Linked DNA regions of Homo sapiens. The protein of the gene in region 1 purifies or fractionates together with the protein of each later gene. This does not show direct contact. Each region holds a gene or a part of one and is shown in the gene's direction. Other genes may lie near its edges.

Evidence for each region.
Region 2: the proteins of SEC16A (region 1) and ITM2B purify together in Homo sapiens (co-immunoprecipitation; one large-scale study listed by IntAct). This does not show direct contact.
Region 3: the proteins of SEC16A (region 1) and CLINT1 purify together in Homo sapiens (affinity purification with mass spectrometry; 2 studies listed by BioGRID and IntAct, with this or other methods). This does not show direct contact.
Region 4: the proteins of SEC16A (region 1) and CLTA purify together in Homo sapiens (affinity purification with mass spectrometry; 2 studies listed by BioGRID and IntAct, with this or other methods). This does not show direct contact.
Region 5: the proteins of SEC16A (region 1) and FAM83B purify together in Homo sapiens (affinity purification with mass spectrometry; one large-scale study listed by BioGRID and IntAct). This does not show direct contact.
Region 6: the proteins of SEC16A (region 1) and GTSE1 purify together in Homo sapiens (affinity purification with mass spectrometry; one large-scale study listed by BioGRID and IntAct). This does not show direct contact.
Region 7: the proteins of SEC16A (region 1) and OCRL purify together in Homo sapiens (co-immunoprecipitation; one large-scale study listed by IntAct). This does not show direct contact.

What each region holds. Positions count from the first base shown.
Region 1 is NC_000009.12:136,472,674-136,476,694, reverse strand, and holds part of SEC16A (protein transport protein Sec16A), read left to right. Parts: coding exon 1-2,646; intron 2,647-4,021. UniProt on the Homo sapiens protein: Acts as a molecular scaffold that plays a key role in the organization of the endoplasmic reticulum exit sites (ERES), also known as transitional endoplasmic reticulum (tER).
Region 2 is NC_000013.11:48,267,419-48,271,265, forward strand, and holds the end of ITM2B (integral membrane protein 2B), read left to right. Parts: 3' UTR 1-2,939; downstream 2,940-3,847. UniProt on the Homo sapiens protein: Plays a regulatory role in the processing of the amyloid-beta A4 precursor protein (APP) and acts as an inhibitor of the amyloid-beta peptide aggregation and fibrils deposition. Plays a role in the induction of neurite outgrowth.
Region 3 is NC_000005.10:157,789,532-157,793,552, reverse strand, and holds part of CLINT1 (clathrin interactor 1), read left to right. Parts: intron 1-1,557; coding exon 1,558-1,850; intron 1,851-2,901; coding exon of another isoform or gene 2,902-2,928; exon of another isoform or gene 2,929-2,953; intron 2,954-3,112; exon of another isoform or gene 3,113-3,985; coding exon of another isoform or gene 3,986-4,021. UniProt on the Homo sapiens protein: Binds to membranes enriched in phosphatidylinositol 4,5-bisphosphate (PtdIns(4,5)P2). May have a role in transport via clathrin-coated vesicles from the trans-Golgi network to endosomes. Stimulates clathrin assembly.
Region 4 is NC_000009.12:36,196,993-36,201,013, forward strand, and holds part of CLTA (clathrin light chain A), read left to right. Parts: intron 1-558; coding exon 559-596; intron 597-1,986; coding exon 1,987-2,104; intron 2,105-4,021. UniProt on the Homo sapiens protein: Clathrin is the major protein of the polyhedral coat of coated pits and vesicles.
Region 5 is NC_000006.12:54,852,900-54,856,920, forward strand, and holds part of FAM83B (protein FAM83B), read left to right. Parts: intron 1-4,021. UniProt on the Homo sapiens protein: Probable proto-oncogene that functions in the epidermal growth factor receptor/EGFR signaling pathway. Activates both the EGFR itself and downstream RAS/MAPK and PI3K/AKT/TOR signaling cascades.
Region 6 is NC_000022.11:46,299,619-46,303,639, forward strand, and holds part of GTSE1 (G2 and S phase-expressed protein 1), read left to right. Parts: intron 1-4,021. UniProt on the Homo sapiens protein: May be involved in p53-induced cell cycle arrest in G2/M phase by interfering with microtubule rearrangements that are required to enter mitosis. Overexpression delays G2/M phase progression.
Region 7 is NC_000023.11:129,574,548-129,578,568, forward strand, and holds part of OCRL (inositol polyphosphate 5-phosphatase OCRL), read left to right. Parts: intron 1-592; coding exon 593-703; intron 704-1,349; coding exon 1,350-1,515; intron 1,516-1,769; coding exon 1,770-2,005; intron 2,006-4,021. UniProt on the Homo sapiens protein: Catalyzes the hydrolysis of the 5-position phosphate of phosphatidylinositol 4,5-bisphosphate (PtdIns(4,5)P2) and phosphatidylinositol-3,4,5-bisphosphate (PtdIns(3,4,5)P3), with the greatest catalytic activity towards PtdIns(4,5)P2.

The sequences.
Region 1 (4,021 bases):
ATTGTGAATCACTGGGCAAGCCCAGAGCTCAGGCAGAATCCAGGAGTGAAGAATGAGCACCGGCCCGCCTCTGCTCTTGTGAACCCCCTCGCCCGGGGAGATAGCCCAGAAAACCGTACGCACCACCCACTGGGGGCTGGGGCCGGGTCTGGCTGTGCCCCGCTAGAAGCAGACTCAGGAGCTTCAGGAGCTCTGGCGATGTTTTTCCAAGGGGGAGAGACAGAAAATGAGGAGAATCTCTCATCTGAAAAAGCAGGCTTATCTGGTCAAGCGGACTTTGACGATTTCTGCTCCAGCCCTGGGCTAGGCCGTCCGCCCGCACCTACACACGTGGGGGCAGGCAGCCTCTGCCAGGCCCTTCTCCCAGGCCCCAGCAATGAGGCTGCTGGTGATGTGTGGGGTGACACAGCGAGCACAGGGGTGCCGGATGCCAGCGGCTCGCAGTATGAGAATGTTGAGAACTTAGAATTTGTTCAGAATCAAGAAGTTCTGCCAAGTGAGCCCCTCAATTTGGACCCTTCCTCCCCGAGTGACCAGTTCAGATATGGGCCCCTTCCTGGGCCAGCTGTGCCCAGGCATGGTGCTGTGTGCCACACCGGAGCCCCTGATGCCACACTGCATACAGTGCACCCTGACAGCGTGTCATCCAGCTATAGCAGCAGAAGCCACGGAAGGCTCTCAGGCTCAGCCAGGCCCCAGGAGCTGGTTGGCACATTCATTCAGCAAGAAGTTGGAAAACCCGAGGATGAAGCTTCAGGTAGTTTTTTTAAGCAAATCGATTCTTCTCCCGTAGGAGGTGAAACAGACGAGACCACTGTGAGCCAGAATTACCGTGGCAGCGTGTCCCAGCCCTCAACCCCGAGCCCCCCGAAACCTACAGGAATATTTCAGACAAGTGCAAATAGTTCTTTCGAACCGGTAAAATCTCACTTAGTTGGGGTAAAACCATTTGAGGCAGATCGCGCCAACGTGGTTGGTGAAGTAAGGGAGACCTGTGTCCGCCAGAAGCAGTGCAGACCAGCTGCCGCCCTGCCCGATGCTTCCCCTGGCAACCTGGAGCAGCCACCAGACAACATGGAGACCCTCTGTGCACCCCAGGTCTGTCCCCTGCCTCTTAACTCCACCACGGAAGCTGTGCACATGCTTCCGCACGCAGGGGCACCGCCCTTGGATACTGTGTATCCAGCACCCGAGAAGAGGCCTTCAGCCAGGACCCAGGGGCCCGTGAAGTGTGAGAGCCCAGCAACGACTCTGTGGGCGCAAAGTGAGCTGCCAGATTTTGGAGGCAACGTCCTTCTGGCCCCTGCAGCCCCGGCGCTTTATGTGTGTGCAAAACCTCAGCCACCTGTTGTTCAGCCTCCAGAAGAGGCGATGTCCGGGCAGCAGTCACGGAACCCAAGCTCGGCGGCCCCGGTGCAGAGCCGAGGTGGCATTGGTGCTTCTGAGAACCTTGAGAATCCTCCCAAAATGGGAGAGGAGGAGGCCCTTCAGTCCCAGGCGAGTTCTGGTTATGCAAGTTTATTATCCTCACCGCCCACTGAGTCTCTGCAGAATCCTCCAGTCTTGATTGCTCAGCCTGATCACAGCTATAATCTGGCTCAGCCCATTAACTTTTCTGTGTCCTTATCGAACTCTCATGAGAAGAATCAGTCCTGGAGAGAGGCTTTGGTGGGGGATAGACCTGCAGTCAGCAGTTGGGCTCTCGGTGGTGATTCTGGGGAGAACACTTCTTTGTCTGGGATTCCAACCAGCTCTGTCCTTAGCTTGTCTCTGCCTAGCAGTGTTGCCCAAAGTAATTTTCCACAAGGTTCTGGTGCTTCCGAAATGGTTTCTAATCAGCCTGCTAATTTGCTGGTTCAACCACCATCCCAGCCAGTTCCAGAGAACTTGGTTCCAGAAAGTCAAAAGGATCGTAAGGCAGGAAGTGCTCTTCCCGGATTTGCTAATAGCCCTGCTGGAAGCACAAGTGTGGTGTTAGTTCCACCTGCACACGGCACCCTGGTGCCTGATGGTAATAAGGCAAACCATTCCAGTCATCAGGAAGACACTTACGGAGCCCTAGACTTTACCTTAAGCAGGACTTTGGAAAATCCTGTAAACGTGTACAACCCGTCCCATTCTGACAGCCTCGCTTCTCAGCAAAGTGTTGCCAGTCATCCCAGACAATCTGGGCCTGGGGCGCCTAACCTTGACCGTTTTTATCAGCAGGTCACGAAAGATGCCCAGGGCCAGCCTGGCCTCGAAAGAGCCCAGCAGGAGCTGGTGCCACCCCAGCAACAGGCTTCTCCCCCACAACTACCCAAAGCCATGTTTTCGGAGCTGTCAAATCCAGAAAGTCTGCCCGCACAGGGACAGGCCCAGAACTCAGCACAGTCACCAGCAAGTCTGGTTCTGGTCGACGCGGGTCAGCAGCTGCCCCCTCGGCCTCCTCAGTCCTCTAGCGTGTCTCTGGTGTCCAGTGGCTCCGGCCAGGCAGCTGTGCCGTCAGAGCAGCCGTGGCCACAGCCAGTGCCTGCACTTGCCCCCGGCCCACCGCCTCAGGACCTGGCCGCCTACTACTACTACCGGCCTTTGTACGATGCCTACCAGCCTCAGTACTCTTTGCCGTACCCACCGGAGCCTGGCGCAGCCTCCCTCTATTACCAGGTAAGAGTCGAGTCGTATGTGTAACCCACTTTTCTGTCTGTGCTTTGACCAGTTGAGTCTCACTCACAGTGTATTCCTTAGTAGTGTTTGTTCGCTTGGTTCCGGGGTCACCCACAGTCCCGCAGGCGTGAGAACAGTATTCCAGTAACGCTTCCTGAGGACAGGGCTCCCGGCTCCAGAACCTACTCTCCCAAGCACAGGCCACCCTTAGTTCACACCACGCGTTAGCATCTTGAATTGCTTATAATACTTGCTTAGGATTTGAACCAGCCTCCCCAGCTTATGTGACAAAAAGAGCCCTCCATTTGCTGTCACCCCTGCTCCTGCTGGCTGTCTGCAGAAAAGTTCTGTCTTGCATGCCTTGGGAAGCTGGGCTAGCCTCTGGAAGCTTACGTCAGAAGCATTGGGTATAACCATAGTCCTTTAAATGCCCCTGGAGAATAAAAACATGGAGAGAAAATAGTTTTGGAGCATGAGCCACACGCATCAGCTAAGCGAGGCGGAGTCCCGCAAGCTGCTGTCAGCACGTGGTGGTGCGGGCAGCGGCTCGGGGACCGGCTGTGCTCGTGCAGAAGATTCTTCTGTGCCTCTTTTTCACAGGGACACCAGCTCATGAGTGACATTTGAGTTAGGTTCCGCATAATCCTGCAGTCGTTCGAAAAGTGTCTGTGTACACATTTGATCATTATCTGCTTTTCCTACCCTCTAACCCAGTTCAACATACACCGATTGGGTTCACCGATTCAGTGTCACCCCAGGTAGAAGGATTGTGTGATAGGGAATTGGAAAACCATGGTCTTGCGGTATGTAAGGCCAGTTGGAACCAGACTTGGGGCCACACAGGAAGGCCTTGCAGTCAGAAGGGGGCCCGCCCCGAGGAGCAAGGCTGCCGTGGCTTGCTGGGTACTGCCCCGGGGAATGGGGCTGGGCCTCCCCCATGGGCCTCGAGCATCATGGTTTGTGTGCGTGTGACCAGGTGCACACCTGACCCCTCAGACCTGTGTAGGTTCCAGAAGGAGCCCAGGCACTTTTTATTTCCATACAAGGACATTCAGCTCTGCTGGGAGCCCTGGGGTGGGGCTGGTGCAGAGCGACGGGAAGCCGTGGCCTCACTTCGGGTCCTTTGTCCGGTCCTCCTGCTGCGAGCCACCTCCCTCCGCAGGAGTGCACTCCTCCCGCCGTGCCTCTTGCTGTGGTGTCCGGGTGGCCAAGGATGAGTCTGTTTTGCTGTGATTTCACATTTCCTGCCAGGCAGCGGCAGCGTCGAGGCCTTGAGGCTTTGAGGCGCTTAAGCGTGAATTCTGGCGTGTGTCCGGGGCACTGCATGTCTTCAGATCCTCATGTGTCCACATGGGCCCCGTTGGGAACAATTCTG
Region 2 (3,847 bases), on another chromosome or scaffold:
AAGATGAGCCTGTGAAATTTGAGAATCCTTCATGTCTCTGGAATGAGTCCCTAGATTCTAGCCCTGCAGCTAGCTGACACTCTAAAAAATTATGAGTGCCTTCCTTTAGCTCCCCATAGAAATGTCTTTGTATAACCATGGCATGATATTATTCTCTTGACTTTTGTTGAGGATTGATAGAAATAAAAATGAGCCAGAAATGTTTCTTCAGCTTTTGTAAAGTGCTGTTAAAAGCATTATGTCATATCTAGTACTTCTTATCTAAGTATTTTAAAATTTAGTGTTAGGAAAATTTTTTTCACATAGGATACATGTTAATATTAGGTAGTACATCTAAAGAATTCATTTGCTTCCCTTTTGCCTTGGTTGCTGGGAAACTCAGAGCCAAACTCGGTGCTTAGATTAATTACTTTCAGCCTAGGTTTTTCTGTATATCACCCTTTCGGTAGGGCTTGAAGTAACCCTTCAGTTTGCTCATATTTTGTTGTGAGTTTTATAGATAGTTTACATGCAACGAAATGCATATATCTTAAGTGTTCAACTCAGTGAGTTTTGACACTTTTCTTTGTCCATGTTAACAATCATCAAAACATTTTCATTGCCCCAGAAAATACCATTGTGCTCCTTTCCGGCAAATATTCCTTCCCTCTGCTAAAACTACTTTTTCATTTCTATGACCATAGTTCAGTTTTTGGCTATTCTTGAACTTTATTTGAATGGAATCGTACATATATAATCTTTTTGTTTGGCTTTTAAAACTCAGTATAACGTTTTGACATTTGTCCATGTTGTTGCATGACTCAGCAGTTCTTTCTTTTCAGTTGCTGTGTAGTAGTCCATTTCTTTTGGTTTTGTGTGTGTGTGTGTGCTTTTTAAATTTATTTTTTATTTTTTTTTTTTTGAGACAGAGTCTGGCTCTGTCAACTCAGGCTGGAGTGCAGTGGCATCATCTCGGCTCACTGCAATTTCTGTCTCCCAGGCTCAAGCCATCCTCTAACCTCAGCCTCCCGAGTAGCTAAGACTCTACAGGCGTATGCCACCATACCTAGTTTGTTTTTGTTATTTTTTTTAGTACAGATGGGGTTTTGCCATGTTGTCCAGGCTGGTCTCGAACTCCTGGGCTCAAAGCAATCCACCCTCCTCGGCCTCCCAAAGTGCTAGGATTACAAGTGTGAGGCACTGTGCCCTGCCAGTATTCCATTTTTTGTGTATACCACAATTTATCATTTTTTTCTGTGTAGGTATTTTCATTGTTTCCAAGTTGGGAAGTATGAATAAAGTTGCTATGAACATGCATGTACAAGTCTTTGTAGATAGCTCATGTTTTAAAAAGTGTTTGTTTAATGATTTCATTGCAAAATCATCTTTATTGTAAACATATCTTTTTGAGGGTAGATTGGTAAAATATACATAATAAATACATGACAATGCAGGAGTCCAAGTATTATTAGGTTTACAGTCATAACAAACACCAAGAACCATTTATAAATTTCAGTTTCTCATTGTTTTAGAATGGAAGGTCTAACCAAATATGTAATGTATCCCTTCAAGTAAACTAGTATAACTTGGGTACCTTCTCATATAAATTCCCCTTAAGGCATACGTTGCTGTCTTTTCCAAATTCCCATTTTGCTTGTCCAATAGGCATTATCAGATACAACATGTTCAAAGGCAAACTTGATTTTCCTCCCATGGTTTCCTCATCTCAGCTCCTTTTTTTTTCCAGTTGCACAGGCTAAAAATAGGAAGTCATTCTAGATTCCTCTCTTTTTCATAAACCTCACATCAAATCCATCAGCCAATCTGGTGTGCTCTACCTTCAAGATACGGATTATCCAGAATTCAGCCGCTTCTCACTGTCTCTACTGCTAACATAGTAGTCAAAGCTGCTATCATCTCTTGCTTGGATTGGTGCAATGGCCTCACAACTGATCTTCCTGCTTCCATACTTGACCCCTAGAGCCTCTTCTAAACAGAGTAGCTAGAGCGATCTTTTCTAAATCTAAGCCACATCATGTCACTCCCCTGCTCAAATCCCAACATTTTATTCAGAATAAAAGTCGAACAATGCCCTACCTGTAGGTAATCTAGGCCTCCAAAGCTCTTCTTACATCACCTCCTGTAACTCTCCCCCTTTCTCACTCCTCTACAGCCACACAGCTGCCTCACTTTCCTTTGAACGTACCAAGGGCAATCCTGCTTCAGAGCCTTTGCACTTGCTGTTTCTGGGCCAGGAATTCCACACCCTCCTTCCCTCACATGTATCCCAAGGCTCACTGCCTTCCTTCAGTTAAGTCTGCTGGAATGTCACTTCATTAGGTATTGCCTGATCACCTTTTCTAAAGTGAGTCTCACCTCCACCCTCAATGCTGGCAATGTCTGTCTGTAGTGTATTCTTAACAATACAGATTAGCACAATGCAGGCCAGACCATGAAGACTGTTTCAAGTTCGAGGATGGGCAAAAATAATGACTAGGACTTGGCTCAAGATTCCTCAAACAGCCAATAAACAATGCAAAGAATAAATGAGAGAGTAATTGGAGACAAGCTTTCCCTTGGCTTCCCTTCTTTTCTCACAGAGGCTTTTCCAGAAGGTGGTCATTTCCATAGCCCATGTGGAATGAGATGTCCACTAGGGCAGAGAAGCACAGAACCGTGGGCACTGCTTCCCTTCCTTTAACCCTATCATATTGCTGCCCAGTGAGCAATATGGTCATTGGTCAAGAAGGCTTATGCCCAGGTATCCCTGTGGCTATGAGCATTGCTCCTTATCTATGCCTCTGCTCTTAGACTTTTCCATTCTGCCCTCTTAGGGGCCTTCCTGGCCATGACCACACTACCTTATTTTTCTCTATAGTACTTATCACCATCTGACATGTATTTATGTTTGTATTTGTTTATTGTCTGTCTCTACAAATAAAATGTAAATTCCCTAAAAACAGAGACTTTATTATTTTTGTTCATGTTACATCCTCAGCACCTAGTAAAGCACCTGGCACGTATTAGGAACTCACTAAATATTTACTGAATGAACTTTGTTCAATAAATTTAACATGGTTCTATGTAGCCTCCTTTTTAAAAATTGGCTCTGTTATATAGACTTCAGGGGCAACTGATAACAAACAAAACCAAACTTGGCTTTTTTCCCTTTTTTTTTTCTTTAATTGTAGTTTCAGAATTTCATCTGGGAGTGGGAATGGCCACAGGAATGCAAGTTCTGTACACCTCAGATTTGGTGCTAGTGATGTTGCCATGTTAAGAAAGTGAGCTGGGCCTTGTGCCTTCAGTAGACAGAATCAAAATCTATTACTTTATTTTAATACCCGAAGTTCAAATTACCTCTTAGGTAGGGATCCCTTAAATGTGATAGTGCTGAATCACAATGGAGGAAAAAAATGGCAAAGAGTATATTGAAATTCAGACTGATTCACAGGTAAAAGGCCTCTTGGAGACAACACTCTGAGAAAGGGACTGCTTTTTTAAAAAATCTGCATGTTTTGGGGTCGAATGGGTTTGGATAGTAGAGACACAAAATGGAAATGGTAGCTGCTTCTCATTGATTCATTTTAATGTAATTTTTAAATTTTAATTTTTTTTTTTTTTTGAGACGGAGTCTCTCTGTCGCCCAGGCTGGAGTGCACTGGCGTGATCTTGGCTCACTGCAACCTCTGCCTCCCAGGTTCAAGCAATTCTCCTGCCTCAGCCTCCCAAGTAGCTGGGACTACAGGTGCCCGCCACTACACCCGGCTAATTTTTGTATTTTTAGTAGAGATGAGGTTTCATCATATTGGCCAGGCTGGTCTCGAATCCCTGACCTTGTGATCCACTCGCCTCGACCTCTCAAAGT
Region 3 (4,021 bases), on another chromosome or scaffold:
GCCTAAGTGATACATCTCTTCATCTGTATGCATGTGATTAATATAACCTGACCACCTTACGCAGGGGGCTGAAACCATTGCAACAATGATTAATCATTTCTGAATAATATATGCCCCACTAGAAATCGTTTCCTCCCACGATTAATCATTTCAGATATGAAGTTTTCAGGTGGGGCAACACATTTTGCCCCAGTTTCCATTCATATTCTGCATTATAGATCAAGCAAATAGAAAATCAGCATAAAAGTTTACATTGATCCAGCAGCCTTAGTTTAAATTGTTTAATATCTAGAACTAACTGTAAAACTCTTAATGCAGTCACTTAAAAAAAAAAAAAAGATCAAAGACGTGTATTAGTAAAACCCTGAGGTAAAGAAATTAGCCCAATTTTTATATTAAATTGTTAGTAGAACTTGGAGTTTCTAAGTGAATTATTTTCTCTTTCAAGGGTGCTTACATTTTAATATGGTAATAGAAGAATGTAATTTTAAAGACTTCACCTTATTATTCTCTTTTGATATTTAGCATAATGAGACATGGTATTGTAGTGGTTGGTCACTTTTTAGGCTAGACAAAATGTATTTCCAAGTTGTAAATGAACATGGAATGCAAAGGGATGGTGTTAATTAACTTGGAAGGTACATACTTACTATTTGCTTTCAGATGACGGTTTTTATGTAGCTCTTTCTTCACATTTTGCTTTTTCAACTTCCATTTATGCGTATTTATCTGTTCCTTTCAATATAAAAATTGATCAGAGGTTAATTGATAAGACTGTAGTGATTAAGAGTATGGATTTTATGCATTCAACCTTAAACTTGCAAAGTATGATAGGGTTTTGCTTGTTTCTGGCTTGGTTGTGTTTTTTAATATTACATGAGTTTTCCTCCTCTCTTTGATTGTAAATAAATGGTCCCAGTTGAAGCAGGCAATGTGCTAAGGTTATAGCCCTTGTATTGTCAGTGGAAGTATGGCCAAATAAGTGAGAAATTCTTCATTTTTTTTTAGACGGAGTCTCGCTCTGTCACCCAGGCTGGAGTGCAGTGGCACAATCTCAGCTCACTGCAACCTCCGCCTCCCGGGTTCAAGCGATTCTTGTGCCTGAGCCTCCCAAGTAGCTGGGACTACAGGTGTGTGTCACAACACCCAGCTAATTTTTTTGTATTTTTAGTAGAGATGAGGTTTCACCGTGCTAGACAGGATGGTCTCAATCTCCTGACCTTGTGATCCACCTGTCTCGGCCTCCCAAAGTCCTGGGATTACAGGCGTGAGCCACCATGCCTGGCCATTTTTTTTTATGGTAAATTCAATGTGTCACCTACAGAGCTGCCAAGAGATGGATTTTACGTTATATTTGGGAGGTTTGTTTTTTCTTTGCCACCTTGTTAACTCTCGTGTAATATTTATGAGAAAGAATACTGTCCAGATGGAGATGGTACCTGCAGATGTTAATCTGGGGGACTCAGATCAGCTCTAATTTGTTTCAGTTCATAGATTGTTACATTTGTTCTGTGCATTCCATGAAGTTTCTTACCCTTAGAGTTATTTCTGTCTTAGTAACAGCAACAAGTGGGAATGGAGACTTTGGTGACTGGAGTGCCTTCAACCAAGCCCCATCAGGCCCTGTTGCTTCCAGTGGCGAGTTCTTTGGCAGTGCCTCACAGCCAGCGGTAGAACTTGTTAGTGGCTCACAATCAGCTCTAGGCCCACCTCCTGCTGCCTCAAATTCTTCAGACCTGTTTGATCTTATGGGCTCGTCCCAGGCAACCATGACATCTTCCCAGAGTATGAATTTCTCTATGATGAGCACTAACACTGTGGGACTTGGTTTGCCTATGTCAAGATCACAGGTAAGTTGTCTGGTTCCCTTGGAATTTGTTATTTATAATCTTTGAGATGCTCTAACTCATTGAATGATAGATTAGTATAAAACAGAAAAATAAGCAAGTCCTTTTTATGTGTATGAATATGTGTCTGTGTGTGTATATATACGCATTTGCACATTTCATTTACCTCATACTCTCCCCTAGCATAGTCATTTGCATTCTGGAAGGCAAGACCTTCTCCCCCATCTTGTAGTCACTGTAAAGCCAAGCATGGTGCCTTTGCACAGAGGAGGAACATGGCAAAAATTTATTGTTACAACAAATTGGTACTTGATAGTTTTTTTAAATTGTCTTTAAGAAAAAGAAATAGGCCAGGCGCAGTGGCTCACCCCTGTAATCCCAGCACTTTCGGAGGCTGAGGTGGGTGGATCACTTGGTCAGGAGATCAAGACCATCCTGGCTAACACGGTGAAACCCAGTCTCTACTAAAAATACAAAAAATTAGCCAGGCATGGTGGCAGGCACCTGTAGTCCCTGCTACTTGGGAGGCTGAGTCAGGAGAATGGCGTGAACCCAGGAGGTGGAGCTTGCAGTGAGCTGAGATCGCGCCACTGCACTCCAGCCTGGGCGACAGAGTGATACTCCGTCTCAAAAAAAAGGAAAAGAAAAAGAAATAGAGATATTGTTTCACTTACGGCAAGTATCCACTTAGTAAAATTTCTGGTCATGTCCCTAAAGAAATATCACTCATTGGTTGTAAATAATTATTGCTAATATGGAAAATCATTCTCTCGAATGGTGAATGTTCTTCCCAATTCTGGACCTGCTCTACATTATATAAATGTTTTATAGGCTCATCTTTCAACTTTCATTTTCATAAAGAAAAACAACCAAAATGGGAGCTTCTTAATTCACTATTTTATAGTTAAATCCGAATTACCTAGTACTAGCTTAGAATTCAGACAAGTGCAGGCTTGGAAAATATGTGTCTGAATGGTACCAGGAACTTGCTATTTTTGACTCAAACTATTGAGAATATGTGTTTATGATGCTAATTACTCATTTTAATGTGTAGATTCTCGTCTTTGGGGTATTAGGATGAAGGAAAAGAAGAAAGAAGCAGAAAGGTGACTGCTCTATGTAACAGAAATAAGACCTAATGTATGAGTTAAGCATAAAGTCAGTCTACTTTATTTGCAGTCTTAATTGTAACTGTCATAATTCTTTGCATTGGTACATTTTTAATTATTCTTCCTCTTCCTGTTCCTTTTTTCTGTCCTTTTCAGTTATCCTCAATAACCACTAGGAACCTCTGCTTCTTTCTCCTGAATTTCTTCTTTCTCCTACATTGTTCCATATATTAATCAGTTCAGTTAGTGTTGCTCACTTTAGATAGTAAAAGTATACACAGAACAGCAAAATGTCAGGATATGTGAAATATAAATTGCTTTTTGACAGTTTTGCCTTATATCCTTGTATAATGTGAGACATCATATCCTGAATTCTCTGTTTTGTTTTGTTGTTTTGAAACAGAGTCTCGCTCTGTCGCCCAGGCTGGAGTGCAGTGGCACGATCTCTGCTCACTGCAGCCTCCACCTCCTTGGTTCAAAGTGATTCTCCTGCCTTAGCCTCCCAAGTAGCTGGGACTACAGGCATGTGCCACCATGCCTGGCTGATTTTGTATTTTTAGTAGAGATGGGGTTTCATCCTGTTGGCCAGTCTGGTCTTGAACTTCTGACCTCAGGTGATCTGCCCACCTCAGCCTCCCAAAGTGCTGGGATTACAGGCATAAGTCACTGCGCCTGGCCTCTGAATTCTGTTTTGAAAGAATAAATGTCCACTTGTGTATCTCCTTAAAGCTGTACTAACCTAAAATCGGTAGTTCCCCTGGGCATTTGCCAGGGATGGTGGCTTCTAGACTTTGAGTGATGGGAGAATAATTGTTAGTGTAGGTAAGTTGTTGGTTTTATCCACCTCAAACCTGATTGGGACTTCAGAGGAACCTCTTTGGGAAGCTAATGATTCAGGGTATTGAAGACATTAGCATAGAACATTAGTGGTTCTTTTTGTTTCAGAAGTTCATTGTTGTGATTAAATTGCCATCTGATAATTTTTATAGAACAGATGCTTAATTTTTAGAGCATTTTTCTATTTTCCAGCCTTTGCAAAATGTTAGCACAGTGCTGCAGAAGCCT
Region 4 (4,021 bases), about 100 Mb from region 1:
GCGAAACCCCCTTCCTACAAAAAAATAGAAAAATTATCCAGGCGTGGTGGCGCATGCCTGCAATCCCAGCTCCTGTGGGGACTGAGGTGGGAGGTTCGCTTGAGCCCAAAAGGTCGAGGCTACAGTAAGCCATGATTGGGCCACTTTGCTCCAGCCTGGGCGACAGAGCAAGACTGTCTCAAAGATGAAGCTGCAGGTCTCTGCTCACTATGGGTGATTCCAGGCCACACTTTTTTTTTTCCCTCATGCAGAATTTTCATAGAGAAACACTGTTCTCTTTCTGCTAGTCTTCCATTTGTTACCACTGTAAAATAGAAAACAGAAAATAAAATCAAAAGCTTTTGGACTTGGGAGCTTAAGGACAGATGTGTACACATTTTGGTGAAATTTGTATATAAGCACATCTTGGTTTTATTTGTTGTATATAGCACCTACCACAGGGATAGCATTTAGTAGCTCAAGGTTCATACAGCATATGATGCTGTATTCTACTGTACAACCCTTTGGCCCAGTGTTTGACCAGTCCTTATTGATAGACCAAAATCTTATGTCTTGCAGATGCTGTTGATGGAGTAATGAATGGTGAATACTACCAGGTACAGAGTACTCTGATTCTGTTCATTGATAGTGATTGAGAATCTTCCTTTCCTGTGATTTTAATTGACTGACCTAGAAAGAAACCCCAGTCCTTTGACTTTCCTGAATGTATTACTGGCTGGTGTGTTATCTACCAAAGTGGAAAGATTTAAAGAGAGGTAGCATTGATAAAAAGAGAACTGTTTAAAAATGTTATTTACCTGCCCCTAGTGTTATCACCTTTATTCTAAAGAAATCACCATTCAAATGATACTGTGTTGAGTGCAGTAAGTTAATACTAATACTTTAAATAATTCTCCTTCCATCTTTGTTTATAGTCTGATTAGGTTAACCTGGTAATATTAATATTCCTTAGTTCAGTGAGTGGCATATGGAATAATTTTGTAAAGATTAACATTTATTTGAGTCTTTTTTTTTTTTTTTTTTTTTGAGACAGTCTCACTGTCGCCCAGGCTAGAGTGCAGTGGCACGATCTTGTCTCATTGCAACCTCCACCTTCTGGGTTCAAGCGATTCATCCACTTCAGCCTCCTGAGTAGCTGGAATTACAGGCGCATGCCACCACGCCCGGCTAATTTTTTGTATTTTTAGTAGAGATGGGGTTTCGCCATGTTGGCCAGGCAGGTCTTGAACTCCTGGGCTCAAGTGACCATCCCGCCTTGGCCTCCCAAAGTGCTGGGATTACAGGCGTGAGCCACCGCACCCCGCCAGAGCCACCGCAACCTTGGCTCACTGCAGAACCCGTTTCTAACAACAATGGCGGCTTTTGTAAAATGTTAAAGGATTACCTTAAAAGCAACAACACAGGCCGGGCACGGTGGCTCACGCCTGTAATTCCAGCACTTTGGGAGGCTGGGGTGGGTGGATCATTTGAGGTCAAGAGTTCGAGACCAGCCTGGCCAACACAGTGAAACCCGTCTCTGCTAAAAATACAAAAATTAACCAGGCGGTAGTGGCATGTGCCTGTAATCCCAGCTACTGGGGAGGCTGAGGCAAGAGGAGAATTTGCTTGAACCCGGGGAGTAGAGGTTGCAGTTGGCCAAGATTGCGCCACTGCACTCCAGTCTGGGTGACAGAGTAAGACCCTGTCCCGTCCCCCCTTCCCCCACCCCAGAAAAAAAAAAAAAAAAAAGCAACCACATAGGCCAGGCGCAGGCACCTGTAATCTCAGCTACTCGGGAGGCTGAGGCAGGAGAATTGCTTGAACCCGGGAGGTGGAGGTTGCAGTGAGCCGAGATCGTGCCACTGCACTCCAGCCTTGGCGACAAGAGTGAAAACTCTGTCTCAAAAAAAAAAAAAAAAAACAGAACCAGGGGTTCTAACTCAGGTGAAGTGCATTTTAGGAAGGAATTTTTGGTATTAATATAGCACAATTGTGTTTTGTGTTAAGGAAAGTAATGGTCCAACAGACAGTTATGCAGCTATTTCACAAGTGGATCGATTGCAGTCAGAGCCTGAAAGTATCCGTAAATGGAGAGAAGAACAAATGGAACGCTTGGAAGCCCTTGGTAAGGAATCCCTTCTGTGTTTTGGTGTCTGTTTTCAGTGGAGTAGTTGAGCTGGACTCTACTTTTATTCCTTTTTAGCTCACATTAACCAGTGTCATTGTCTGGTCTTTGGGAAGATATCTTCTCAGCCTGAAGGTTACAAGGCTACCTGCACAGAGATGCCTAATCACAGGCCATTGTGTGAGGAGTAGGGTAGCCGGAGATCCCCAAGATCCTCTCACAGGAAGAGCATAGTGATGCTGCTCCTGACCTCAAGAGTAGCCTCAGGTGGTGTTTATAGAGTGCTTTATAAACTTGAAGGATTCAAGTTTCCTATGTCCGTGGACTTTAACAGTCCATTTTTCTTTTTTCTTTTTTCTTTTTTTTTTTTTGAGATGAAGTCTCACTCTGTTACCCAGGGTGGAGTGCAGTGGTGCGATCTCGGCTCATTGCAAGCTCTGCCTCCCGGGTTCACACCATTCTCCTGCCCTCAGCCTCCTGAGTAGCTGGGTCTACAGGCGCCCGCCACTACGTCCCGCTCATTTTTTTTTTGTATTTTTAGTAGAGACAGGGTTTCACCGTGTTAGCCAGGTTGGTCTCGATCTCCTGACCTTGTGATCCACACACCTTGGCCTCCTAAAATGCTGGGATTACAGGCGTGAGCCACCGCGCCCGGCCTCCATTTTTTATTTGAAGGCTAAATGAATTTAAAGTAACACGAGGAAAATGAGGTATGTTAGGAAAAAATGTACAATTTGTTTTTCCTACCTTAATATCTCTGTAAGGTAAGTTTTACAATTTTACAGGTAAGAAAAGTGGAGGAGAGGTAGAATAAGTATTTGGAATACTCAGCTAAGGAATGGTAAGAGTCACAATTTCAGCTGAAGTCTGCCTTGCTTCAAAGTCACTACCCATCCCCATCAGCCACATTGCTTTCTAAACATTTAATGTGCGTGGCCATCTAGCCACACAGCCTGGCCTTTGATAAAGAGATGTGTACGTGGAGTGTCACCTGTTGGTTCATGATCAGGGGAGACTTGTGTCTGTACATGGTGGATTGGAGAAGTATGCAGAGTGTGAGGATATAATCCACATTGTGGCCTTTTCTTTGTTTTTTCTTTTTCTTTTTTTAATCAGCTGACTTTAAGATTCATCTTTTCTCAACTTTACAGAACAATTGAAAGGAGGAAAATAAACATGTGCACCCCCAGATTCAGTAATTAATGGATTATCTTTATATAAATGATATGTTTTAGACATACACACACACAAATTGTTTTGGCTGACCTACTTTAAGATAAAGACATCATATACTTTGTGTCTAAATATTTCAATGTACACCTCCTAGAAATAATGACATTCTCCTATGTAACCACAACGTCAGCAGTATTATTCCCTCTTGGGAACTGTTGAACTAGTGAAAACATGAGTCCTTATTTTTCAGATGGGATAACTGACACCCAGAAATAGGAAGGGACATGACCCAGATGACACAGCCAATTAGTGCCAAATCATTTATCTCTCTAGTCCAATTTAGGTGGCTTTCAGAACAAAGAATGCACTTAGTATTTGAACCTTTATAGCACCATTCATTAGTGATTTCTTTGGTGGAAATATTCTGTATCTGTGCTGTCTCGTATGGTAGCCACTAACCACATGTAACTGTTAAGTACTTGAAGTGTGGCTTCACAATTCAAGTGTGACTGAGAAACTGAATTTTAAATTTTCTTTAATTTTAATAAATTTACATTGAAGTAGCCACATGTAGCTAGTAGCTACCATATTGGACAGTGGAGCTGTAGGAAGATGAAAATAGGTCCTAACAGCTTTGGTCCTTGCTTGTTCTTTGTGTCTCTTGAGTATGCTTAGAGGCAAGATTTAGCTGGTCTTAGTACTGCTGTAGTATTTTTCATGTTACAGAACCCAAATTTATCTTTT
Region 5 (4,021 bases), on another chromosome or scaffold:
TGTGAACTTTCCTAAAAGATTATTCGATTTTTGTTGCAATTTTTTTTTCTTTTTTTAAGCTCATTGGCTATTGTTGTTAGTGTATTTTATGCGTAGCCCAAGACAATCCTTTTTGGCCCAGGGAAGCCAAAAGATTAGACACCCCTGGATAGATCAAGCCAGCCACAACATTCTCTGCCAAAGCCTAATCCAGAGCAAGACCTTAACTCTCTTCAATTCTGTGAAGGCTGAGAGAGATGAGAAAGCTGGAGGAGAAAGGTATGAAACTAGCAGAGGTTGGTTCCTGAGGTTTAAGAAAAGAAGCTGTCTCCAAAATGTAAATGTGCAAAGTGAAGCAGCAAGTGCTCATGAAGAAGCTGAAGCAAGTTATCCAGAAAATCTAGCTAAGATAATTGATGAACAAAGTGACACTAAACAACACATTTTTAATGTAGGTGACACAGCCTTCTAGTGGAAGAAGATGCCATCTAGTATTTCAGAGCTAGAGAGGGGAAGTCAATGCCTGGTTTCAAAGCTTCAAAGGATAGGCTGACTGACTTTTTAGGGGTTAATACAGCTGGTGACTTTTAAGTTGAAGCCACTGCTCATTTACCATCCCAGAATGCCTAAGGTCTTCAAAAATTATTCTAAATCTAGTCTGCCTGTGCTCTGTAAATGGAACAACAAAGCTCAGATGAGAGCACATCTGTTTACAGCAAGGTCTACTGACTTTTTAAGCCTACTGTTGAGACCTACTTCTCAGAAAAAAAAGATTCCTTTCAAAATGTTATTGCTTATAGACTGTGCACCTGGTCACCTAAGAGATCTGATGGAGATTAATGTTGTTTTCATGCCTTCTGACACAACATTTGTTCCATAGCACATGGATCAAGAAGTGACTTTGACTTTTAAGTTTTATTATTTAAAAAGGCATTTCATAAAGCTATAGCTGCCACAGGTAAGTGATTCCTCTAATGAATCTGAGCAAAATAAATAGAAAATCTGGAAAGAAATCACCATTCTACATGCCATTAAGAACATTTGTGATCCATGGGAGGCGGTCAAAATATCAACATTAACAGCAGTTTGAAAGAAGTTGATTCTAACTCTTGTAGATGTCTTAGAAAGGTTCAAGACTTTTGTGGAGGATGTAATTGCAGATATGGTGGAAATAGCAAGGGACCTATTAATAGAATTAGAAGAGGAGCCTGAAGATGTGGCTTAGTTTTTTCAGTGTCATGATAACACTTTAATGGATGTGGTGTTGTTTCTCATAGATGAACAAAGAAAGTGGATTCTTGAGATGAAATCTACTCTCTTGGTGAAGGTGCTATGAACATTGTTAAAGTGACAACAAAGAATTTAGAATATTATAAAAACTTAGTTGGTAAAACAGCAGCAGGATTTAAGAAGATTGACTCTAATTTTGAAAGAAGTTTTACCATATGTAAACTGCTGTTAAACAACATTGCATGCTACAGAGAAATCGTTTGTGAAAGGAAGAGTCAATCTTTCTGGCAAAATTCGTTATTGTCTTATTTTAAGAAATTGCTATAGCCACCCCACCCTTCAGCAACCACCACCCTGATCAGTCAGCAGCCATCAACATCAAGACAAGCCCCTCCAATGGCAAAAAGATTACAACTTGCTGAAGGCTCAGATGATAGTTAGCATTTCTTTAGGGATAACTTATCTTTTGACTAAGGTTGTTCATTGATGTTTCAGACATAATGCTATTGCACACTTAATAAGCCACAGTATAATGTAAACATAACTTATATATGCACTGGGAAACCAAAAAAAATTTGTGTAACTCATTTTATTGCAATACTCACTTTATTGTGGTGTCTGGAACCCAACCTGTATTATCTTCAGCGTATGCCTAGGTGTGAAAGTCAAATTTTATATTCTAATACAAGTCAAATTTTATTTTCTAGTAGCTAAAATATAAATACAATTGACGATTGATTACTCTGTAAACATTGTAAACACAATATTCAACAATATGTTTCTAGTATTTTATACTTTTAAAAAATTGTTCCTTTTCTTCACAATGGAACACGTGTGCAATGGTCATCTGATCAAGACCAAAGGGCCGCTTCTCTTGGCATGTACAGTGAAGTTCATCTTTGCTTTAATTGTATCCAAATTATAAACATCCTGTCACTAACTTCAGAATTTTCATTTTTCCAGTTTTCAAAATTGATTATAAGTTCAAATTGCAATAAAATATTCAAATAAGTGTGCAAATACGCAGTAAAAAGAAATACAGTGATATTATTGAAACTGCATATTGACATGCTGGCAGCCCCATGTACAGTAAAATGAAATACTTAGTAATTGATGGATTAAAGACTAGAATTATTAAAGTTGTTTTGAGTGTCAATCTCTCATGCAGAAAAGTTCAGGATTTTCAAATGTCAAAAGAGCTAAGTAGGAGATCACTTATACATATAATTGAAAATTACAGCATATGGCTACAATTTCTATGTCTGTTAATGTCAGACAAAAACATCAGTCCATATACGTTGAAAAAAATATAGAAAGTGGTTTATTGCAGAAGCACTTATTTGTGTGATACTAGGCCAATTCATGTCCGTTGATATCTCAATATATTATCTGAGAAATCTGTCACCTTTGGTTCATACTCAAAGCCATACTCATAGCTCTGTTATTAACATAAGGTCTTCAAACTATTTGAAATTCTATATTTTGTTTATGGAGTGGCTTTACTCCCATTTAGCATGTTAAATCTTGTATGTGGAAGAATTAGAATAAGACATTTACAGGAAAAGAAGAGTGTTAAATCTCTCCAAGGTCATTAGATCCAAAATGTGATTCCACAGAAATTTGGGGTGGATCCAAAATACGATTCACCAAAAAGTGGGGGCAGGAGCCCTTGAAATCCTAAGTATGTGTGTGGATGTATCACACACAGAGTAAATAATTTGATAAAACCATTAATTACTTGAGTTAAAGAAATGAATCATCTTTGATTTTAATGTAACAATGTAGAAATTCCATTGTCTCCCAAATAATTCAGTTTATTTTGTATACATATGATAAATATTTTTGATTTGTACAGAGGATGGTTAAAACTGAAAGAGAAGAAAGGTATAGATAACATAATCAATGATGATTCCATGGAAAGGGTGCCAAGGTCTTTTCACTTAAGATATGTAGTGTTGTAGCAATTGCTAAATAATGGCCACAACTCTTTGGGGAAAGCTTAATTGAGAGACTAAGTGAGGAGCCCTGTCTTTGAAATCAGTTAGAACTTTGAGCTGCGAAGGAGTGGAAAAAGCAAGATTTACTCATGGACTCACATATACACACCCATATGTAAATTGTGCAGAGCGATAAGTCAACCAGTGATAGCTGCAATACCATGTGGCCAAGTCGTCTCCCTCTCCCCCACTGTTATGCTGACATAGGCCTTAAGGACAAATGAAAGTGAAATAAGCTGCCAGGTGCATTTTCTGGTTCAGGTGTGGTTTAAGCAACTGTGACTAGCAGAGTTCTATAAACATCAGCTTTGTCTCAGAATTGCAGTCTTGCAAGTTAGCCCTGCTGTCAGAAGAATTGAGCACAATTGTAGAGAGAGAAAGCTGAGAAACCAAGTGACTGTTCATATGTAACCCACAAGTCCTAGAAATCTGTCTATATAAATCCAGCAGCATTTTACACATTTAAAATATATATTTCTTTATTTATCTCTTATTTATTAACTTCCCTGTGTGCAAGTGCTCTATAAACAAGTAAAGAAGCCAACAAAAAAGGTTATTTTGAAAAGAACAAAAAGTCGAACTAGAGTGGGCTAGTTTTCTGATCAGATTTGTTGGCAGTTTCTGGGGTAACATAAAGAGAAAAGCACTTTTTTCAGTTGTGATACAGCTGTCTAGGCAGGCTTGATTACAAGTGAATCCTAAGGGAAATGACTGATAAAGAATTGGTAGGTATTGGGATTATTTTTAGATATTCTGATTATTTATATGGCTCTTTAACCAAGTGAAAACTAAAAGCTTTCCAGGCTAGATATATT
Region 6 (4,021 bases), on another chromosome or scaffold:
CTGCTGTCTGGGTCTCAGCCACGCTGTCTCACCGGCTTCTACTTCCCGTTGGCTAATATGTGCATTTGTAATGTCAGGGGATATTATCTGCTTCCTTTCGGATACACTTTCTACACAGTAACGTCACCTTTTAAAAACACAAGTTAGATTATAAAGCTCTTTTCTTTTCTTTTTTCTTTTTCTTTTTTTTTTTTGAGACAGAGTCTCACTGTTGGCCAGGCTGGAGTGCAGTGGCGTGATCTCGGCTTACTGCAACCTCCGCCTCTTGGGTTCAAGCAATTCTCCTGCCTCAGCCTCCTGAGTATCTGGGACTACAGGCGCCCGCCACCACGCCCAGCTAATTTTTTTTTTTTTTTTTTTTTTTTTAGTAGAGATGGGGTTTCACTGTGTTAGCCAGGATGGTCTCAATCTCCTGACCTCGTGATCTGCCCGCCTGGGCCTCCGGAAGTGCTGGGATTACAGGCATGAGCCACTGTGCTCAGCCTTTTTTTTCTTTTTGAGATGGAGTCTCGTTCTGTCACCAGGCTGGAGTGCAGTGGCGACATCTTGGCTCACTGCAACCTCCGTCTCCTGGGTTCAAGTGATTCCCCTGCCTCAGCCTCCTGAGTAGCTGGGATTAAAGGCATGAGCCACCGTGCCCAGCTAAGTTTTGTATTTTCAGTAGAGACGGGGTTTCACCATGTTGGTCAGGACGGTCTCGAACTCGACCTCAAGTGATCCGCCTGCCTCAGCCTACCACTGTGCTGGGATTACAGGCATGAGCTACCACGCCAGGCCTAAAATTCTTTTCTTAAAGCCCGGTAATAGTTTCCTATCCCACTTTGGAGAAAATAAAAGCTCCTTGCCATGGCTTGCAAACCCTCTGTGATCTGACCCAACTTGTGTTTTCACCTCTTCCAGCCACTCTGACTTCTGACCCGTTCCTCTCACACACGCTTTGATATTTTCTCAGAGGTGTTCCCACCTCTACATGTCTCTCACCGCACTGCCTGAGGCACCCTCCAGGGTGGGCTGCATGTACCCCAAGCCTGCCTGGCACCTAGCGAAGGATGTGGTCTGTTGTGGGTGCTCATGTGTTTGCAGGATGAGCAAGTCAGCCAGCCCGGGACCCCTCGGAGCCAGTCACAGAGCCTGGAGCAGAAGACTGCTTCCCTGAGTTCTGGTCCTGGATTCTTTTTCCACGCCAGACCATTAGAAGTTTCTGAAATTGACTTCCTAATTTAGAGGTGTAAAAAGTGAAATGTCTGCCTCTCTATATCTCTAAGTCACCTACTTGCCCTTCCAAGGGCCATCGATGTCATCAGTCTCTTGGGTATCCTTCCAGACATAATTTGTGCAGGTGCAAGCCAACACGCATAGAGTGTTGCATCCCCCTTTCCATATAGCATGGAGAGCCCTGTCCTGAATCTTGTTTTTCAGGCTTAATTTATCTTGATGAATATTGTGTATCAACACATGAAGAGCATTACTAGCTTTTGTACCTATATAGGGTTCCACCTTGGGGATATGTCATTCATCTCATCTGCTGTGGGTGAACATTTAGTTTGTGCCTAGAGTCTTGCTGTTACCAATGATGCTGCAGTAAATAACTGTGGACACCGTGTAACTGCACAACACATTGCTTTCCACACCTGTGAGTGTCTGTAGGATACACTTGCAGAAGTAGACTTGCTGGGTCGAAGAGGGTGTGTGTTTCTTACTTCGATAGGTACTGCCAGGCCCTCTAGAGAGCTGTGATAATTTACACCTTCCCCAGCAGTGTAGAAATTGTCTCTTTCCCCACAACCTTGCCTATAGTTCATACATCTTTGAGTTTTGCCAGTCATATAGGCGAAAACTGCATTCTCAGAGCAAGTTTATTTTTAATACTTTTTTTTTTTTTTTTTAAGACAGAGTTTCCCTTTTGTCCCCTAGGCTGGAGTGCAATGGTGCGATCTCGGCTCACTGCAAACTCCCCCTCTCAGGTTCCAGCAATTCTCCTGCCTCAGCCTCCCAAGTAGCTGGGATTACAGGCACCTGCCACCAGGCCTGGCTAATTTTTTGTATTTTTAGTAAAGATGAGGTTTCACCATGTTGGCCAGGCTGGTCTCGAACTCCTGACCTCAGGTGATCCACCCGCCTCGACCTTCCAAAGTGCTGGGATTATAGGTGGGAGCCACAGCGCCCAGCCTCATTACTCTTATTTTTGAGTGAGGCTGAACTTCTTGCCATCTATTTAAGAATGTTTCGGCCAGGTGCGGTGGCTTGCGCCTGTCATCCCAACACTTTGGGAGGCCAGGGTGGGCGGATCACCTGAGATCGGGAGTTCCAGACCAGCCTGACCAACATGCAGAAACCCCGTCTCTACTAAAAATACAAAATTAGCCAGACATGCTGGTTCATACTGATCCCAGCTACTTGGGAGGCTAGGGCAGGAGAATCGCTTGAACCCAGGAGGCAGAGGTTGCGGTGAGCCAAGATCGCGCCATTGCACTCCAGCCTGAGCAACAAGAGTGAAACTCCGTCTCAAAAAAAGTAAATAAAGAAAAATAAAAAAGAATGTTTTGTTTTATTTTCTGTGAACTTTATCTGTTTGTATCCTTTTTCTATCTTTATTAGATTATTAATTTTTTATTACTTTATAGATATGCTTCATGAATTAGCCCTTTATGAACTGAGTTGCAAATATTCTTTTCCCCATTTCTTGTTTAACTTATTGTGATTTTTGCCACACAGAGATGTTAAAATTTTAATGTTTGAAGGTCAATCTTTTATTTTTTATTTATTTATTTTCTGAGACATGTTCTTGTTCTGTTGCCTGGGCCTGAGTGTAGTGGCGAGATTGTGGCTCACTGCAGCTTTGACCTCCCAGGCTCATGCGATCCTCCTTCCTAAGCCTCCCTGGTAGCTGAGACTACCACGCCTAGCTAATTTTTGTATTTTTTGTACAGACAAGGTCTCCCTATGTTGTCTAGGCTGGTCTCAAACTCCTAGGCTCAAGCGTTCCTCCCACCTCAGCCTCCCAAAGTGCTGGGATTACAGATGTGAGCCACTGGGCCCAGCCGACCAATCTTTGGTAGCTTCCAGTTTAGTGTCATAGTTAGAAGTCCACACTCCCAAGTTACAAAAGTTTCCTCATAGCTGATTCTTGTTTGTTTAGGGCTTTGTTTTTTTTCCATTAAGTCCTTGATTTGTTTGGAATTAGGCCTGATGTGGTGTGAGGCATGGACCAAACTTAGTTGGCATTTTTCCAGATGATTATGTAGTTTATTTTAATACCATTTTTTCACTTTCCCTCTTTTTTTTTTTTTTTTTTCTTTGAGTTGGAGTCTTGCTCTGTCACCCAGGCTGGAGTGCAGTGGCGTGATCTTGGCTCACTGCAAGCTCCGCCTCCCAGGTTCATGCCATTCTTCTGCATCAGCCTCCCAAGTAGCTGGGACTACAGGCACCTGCCACCACACCCGGCTAATTTTTTGTATTTTTTAGTAGAGATGGGGTTTCACCGTGTTAGCCAGGATGGTCTCGATCTCCTGACCTTGTGATCCACCCTCCTCGGCCTCCCAAAGTGCTGGGATTACAGATGTGAGCCACCCTGCCCGGTCTACTTTCCCTCTTTATTTGATATGTTACTTTTATGATATGCCAAGTCTTCTTTATATCCATTTTGCATATTTCTTGTTAGGTTTGTTTATCGTTATTTTGCATCTTTCGTTGCTGCTAGAAACGAAGTATTTTCTTCCATGTTATCTTCTCACTGTTCTTTGTAGATATGAAAGCTGTTGATTGCTCTGTAATGATTTTGTCCTTAGCCATGTTCTTTTATCCTTTTACTACTTATAGTAGTTTCCAGTTGATCTTCTTGATTTGTTTCTCGTGTCTATAATCATGGCATCTGTGCAGTGTGATCATGTTACCTCCACATTCCTTCCTTTGCCTGACTGTGTTGCTTTATGTGTCCAGAACAGTGTTAAGAATTGTGCTTGGAGATGTCATTGCCACGTGCCTGGCTTTAATGGAATTGCTTCTGTGGTTTTTCATTAAG
Region 7 (4,021 bases), on another chromosome or scaffold:
TATACTTCTTGGTATTGTACATAGAATCTAATAGAGTTAAAAGCTTTTTAATAATATTTGCTGCCACCTCACCAAGTTATGATTGTTAGAAACAGTAATTGCTGTGTTTTGACACTGTCATTTTGTACAGTGCAAGCAATCATTTTTACCACAATTATCACATTTTTTCCACTACCAAATAACTTAACAATGAAGCAAGAAAATATTCTTCCCAAATATTTATTATTACCAAGCTTCTTAACGTAGGGGTTTAACTTTTACAGGACGTTAGCCAATTAATCTTACCTTTACCTTAAAGCGTGTGCTTCTATAATGCTTTGTTCAATTTATGTTTGCTTTAGTGACCTTAAAAATTGTTAGAGACTCTTGGAGGTATAAAAGTTGAGAACACATAAAACTAAAGCAAGGATCTGTTTTCTTTCAGGTGCAAGCTGTGGATGAAGCAAGATATAGAGAGTGTTTGAGGATGTTGTTTGCACCACAGTTTATTTTAAATAGTTACTGTAATGACCAGTTTTAAATTGTTAGATAATCTCCAAGGGAGATGAGCTAGAAGGATATAAGACTGAAAAGAGGATACATTTTCTTTCAGGTGAAGGTTGTGGATGAACGAAGGTACCGGAAAGTCTTTGAAGATAGTGTACGCATCATGGACAGAATGGAAAATGACTTCCTTCCTTCCTTAGAACTCAGCAGGAGGGAGGTGAGCAAAAATACATGATCTCCCTGTCTACTGCTCACTGTGGTTAGCACAGAAGAAACTGCTACTTAGAAAAGGCTACATAGCAACGTGGTTAAGCCCATGTCGCTGGAGTCAGACTGCCTCCATTCCAGTTGTAGCACGGCTGTTTAGTAGATGTATGACCTCAGGCAAGTATCTTACCCGCTCAGAGCCGCAGTTTCCTTTCCTGGATTAAGGGGTAGTTGTAAGGATTACATGAGTTAATACATGCAAAGCTCTCAGAACAGCACCCGGCACATAGTAAGCCCTCCGCTGTTAGATGCTCTTATTTAATATTTCAGAGTTGCTAGTTAATTTATATCTCAGAAACCAGGACTTGGTCACAGGATGAATACTCTGAACCAAGGTTGGGTTACCCTCTTAGGATCCTAGGAATGATCAGAGTAGCCTGGAGAAGTAGCAAGAGCCACCTAACTCCTTCTCTGCTGGTGTGAGTATAATAATACATGCAAGTGGATGTTGTGAAGTTGGTTCAGTTGGTGAATGTCTATGGCATTTGCACACCTGCTTAACAATTACCTTACTCCTCATATCCTCTATGGAATAATCCAACTGACTTACTTCCCCTACTAGTGATGCATGTTTGTGTCTGTCTGTTATTCCCCAGTTTGTGTTTGAAAATGTGAAGTTTCGGCAACTACAAAAGGAGAAGTTCCAGATCAGCAACAATGGACAGGTTCCCTGCCATTTTTCTTTCATCCCTAAACTTAATGACAGCCAGTACTGCAAGCCATGGCTTCGGGCTGAACCTTTTGAGGGCTACTTGGAGCCAAGTGAGTTTTCCCTTTACCATTGTCTCTGCTGGTGATGTCATGACTCCCATCCCCTTGGTTTAACTTTCTGTTTTCTAACCACATGTCTCTTACCTTTACTGTCATATTGGTGATACCTCTGGTGTGTGTCCTGTCTCTTCCCCCTCATTGCTTAATGATTTTTTTAGAGGACACTTTTCTGTTGGTTCTTATACTCTTTTTTGCTTTCCCACTGGAGGTTTTCCTATTACCATGTATCATCTCTTACATTTCAGATGAGACAGTGGACATTTCTCTTGATGTGTATGTCAGCAAAGACTCTGTAACCATCCTGAACTCGGGAGAAGATAAGATTGAAGATATTCTCGTCCTTCACCTGGATCGAGGCAAAGATTACTTCTTGACTATCAGTGGAAATTACCTCCCAAGTTGTTTTGGCACATCCTTAGAGGCTCTGTGCCGTATGAAAAGACCAATCCGAGAAGTTCCTGTTACCAAACTCATAGACTTGGTAAGAACTGTCCCAAGACATAAACCTCTTTTACATTTAATTTTCACAATACTTAAGTGACGTCCTCATTATCTTTGTGCTTTCTGTCTTCTTTTGGCCACGGGGGATGTCAAATGATAAAGAAGAATGTTACTTTAGCACTGTTTTGATTAGATTAAGCCTAAGGGGAAAGAGGGGGGACTAATCTGCAGTTGGCTCTTGTTGTGAGTACAATACATAATACTAAGCTCACCAAATAAGATTAAAGACTCCCCTCTCAAAGATATAATGCTTGTTTGTTAAGCTCTTCATACTCTCAAGTCACTTTTGTATAAATTAGCATGTACGTGAGGTATGCTAAGTGGGGCAGGCAGAATTATCCTCATTTGAGCATATGAGAAAACTGAGGCACAGAGACATTGACGTGCCCAGAGTCAAATACCATCAGTTAGTAACAAATCTAGCACCCAGATTTCCTGGCTCCCAGTTTAGTATTCCTCACTAATACCACATTATATCTAATCAGAGTAAAACTTTGCTATTTATGGAAGCATAGAACTATCCTGGAACCCTGGAGTACCTGAATCAGAATCCCTGGGGGTGCTTATTACAGGTACCCTCACTTCTGGCAATGGAATCAGAATCTCAGGATATGGAGCCTACAGATCTGCATTTTATCCGCATTCCAGATGCTTATAATGTACATTGAAATTTGATACTTACTTAATGTGATGTGCTTAAGAAAGAAAAGGAGGTTGATTTTCCCACCTCTCCCTCAAGCCAAGCTATAATATTAATGTTTTTATGAAGGAAGTACTTACTATCTTCAGTAACATAAGTTGATTTAGTAATAAAGTTCATTGTATTAAGAAATTTCCTTCTAAATGAAAATATTGTTGGATTGTATGCAGAATCTCTTTGGGCTACAAAAGTATATTCTTGGTTTTTTTACCAAAGAAAATTAGGTGAGGTGACAGCATACGTTATCCTTACCATTAGTATTCACATGGATCCTTTAGGCCTAGCCAGAGCGAGTGATTGTATCTAGCAGGGAGGTCTAGACCAGCAGGCAGGCTGCTGGCTTGTCTGAGTCCGATCTGTTCTGTTGCCATGGAATTGTTTTAGCTGTGACTCAGATAGCAGATTAAAACACTGAGTCCAGCCCCGGCATTCTTTCTTGGAATTATACTTATTTCCCCAGAGCCCTCATGACTGAGTATATTACCTCTGTTTGAGAGAGAACCATTTTCTTCAGAAATTCATATCCTACCGTTCTGCTGTTTTTCATGATAATTGTTTTTCTCCTAACATTATATTTCTGTCTTTTAGATTTTAGTATTTCACCTTTTAGAATACATTTTGGATGATGAAGTTGTTTTTCTTATTTCTCCTACCCCCTTTCCTTCATCTCAGACATTATTTCCCAGCTTTCTTTGTTTCAGCTTTTTATTATGAAAAATGTCAAATGTGCAGAAAAATGGAAAGAACAGTACAACACACCCCCACATGCCTTCTGTACATATATACACACAGATGTTTTTTGCTGTGTCATGTAAAATTTAGTGGTAATATGTCACTTCACCACTGAACACTTCAGCCTGCATCTCTTAACAAAAAGGGCACACTTAAGCACAATACCATTATTATGTATAAGAAAACTAACAGTAATCCATAGTATCATTTAACATTCGGTCCATATTCAGATTTCTTCAGTTGTCCCAAGAATTTCTGTTATACCTTTTTTTAAACCAAAATCCAATCTGGGTTCATATAGTATTTGGTGAGGTCTCTGAAGTCTCTATTGGAGTAGTACAGTTCCTACTTTCTTTAGTGACATTGACTTTTTTAAGAGTCCAGTACAAATGTCCAGTCAAGGGTCAACCATTTCCTAAATTTTTCTGGTTGTTTCCTTCTTGTTTTTTTTTTTTTTAAACTTATCCCATTTATACTCTCTCCTTCCACCTTCATGTAAACAGGAACCTACCCTTATTTTTAGTCAGAGTCAGTGAAGATATTAGAATATCTTTGCCATTAATA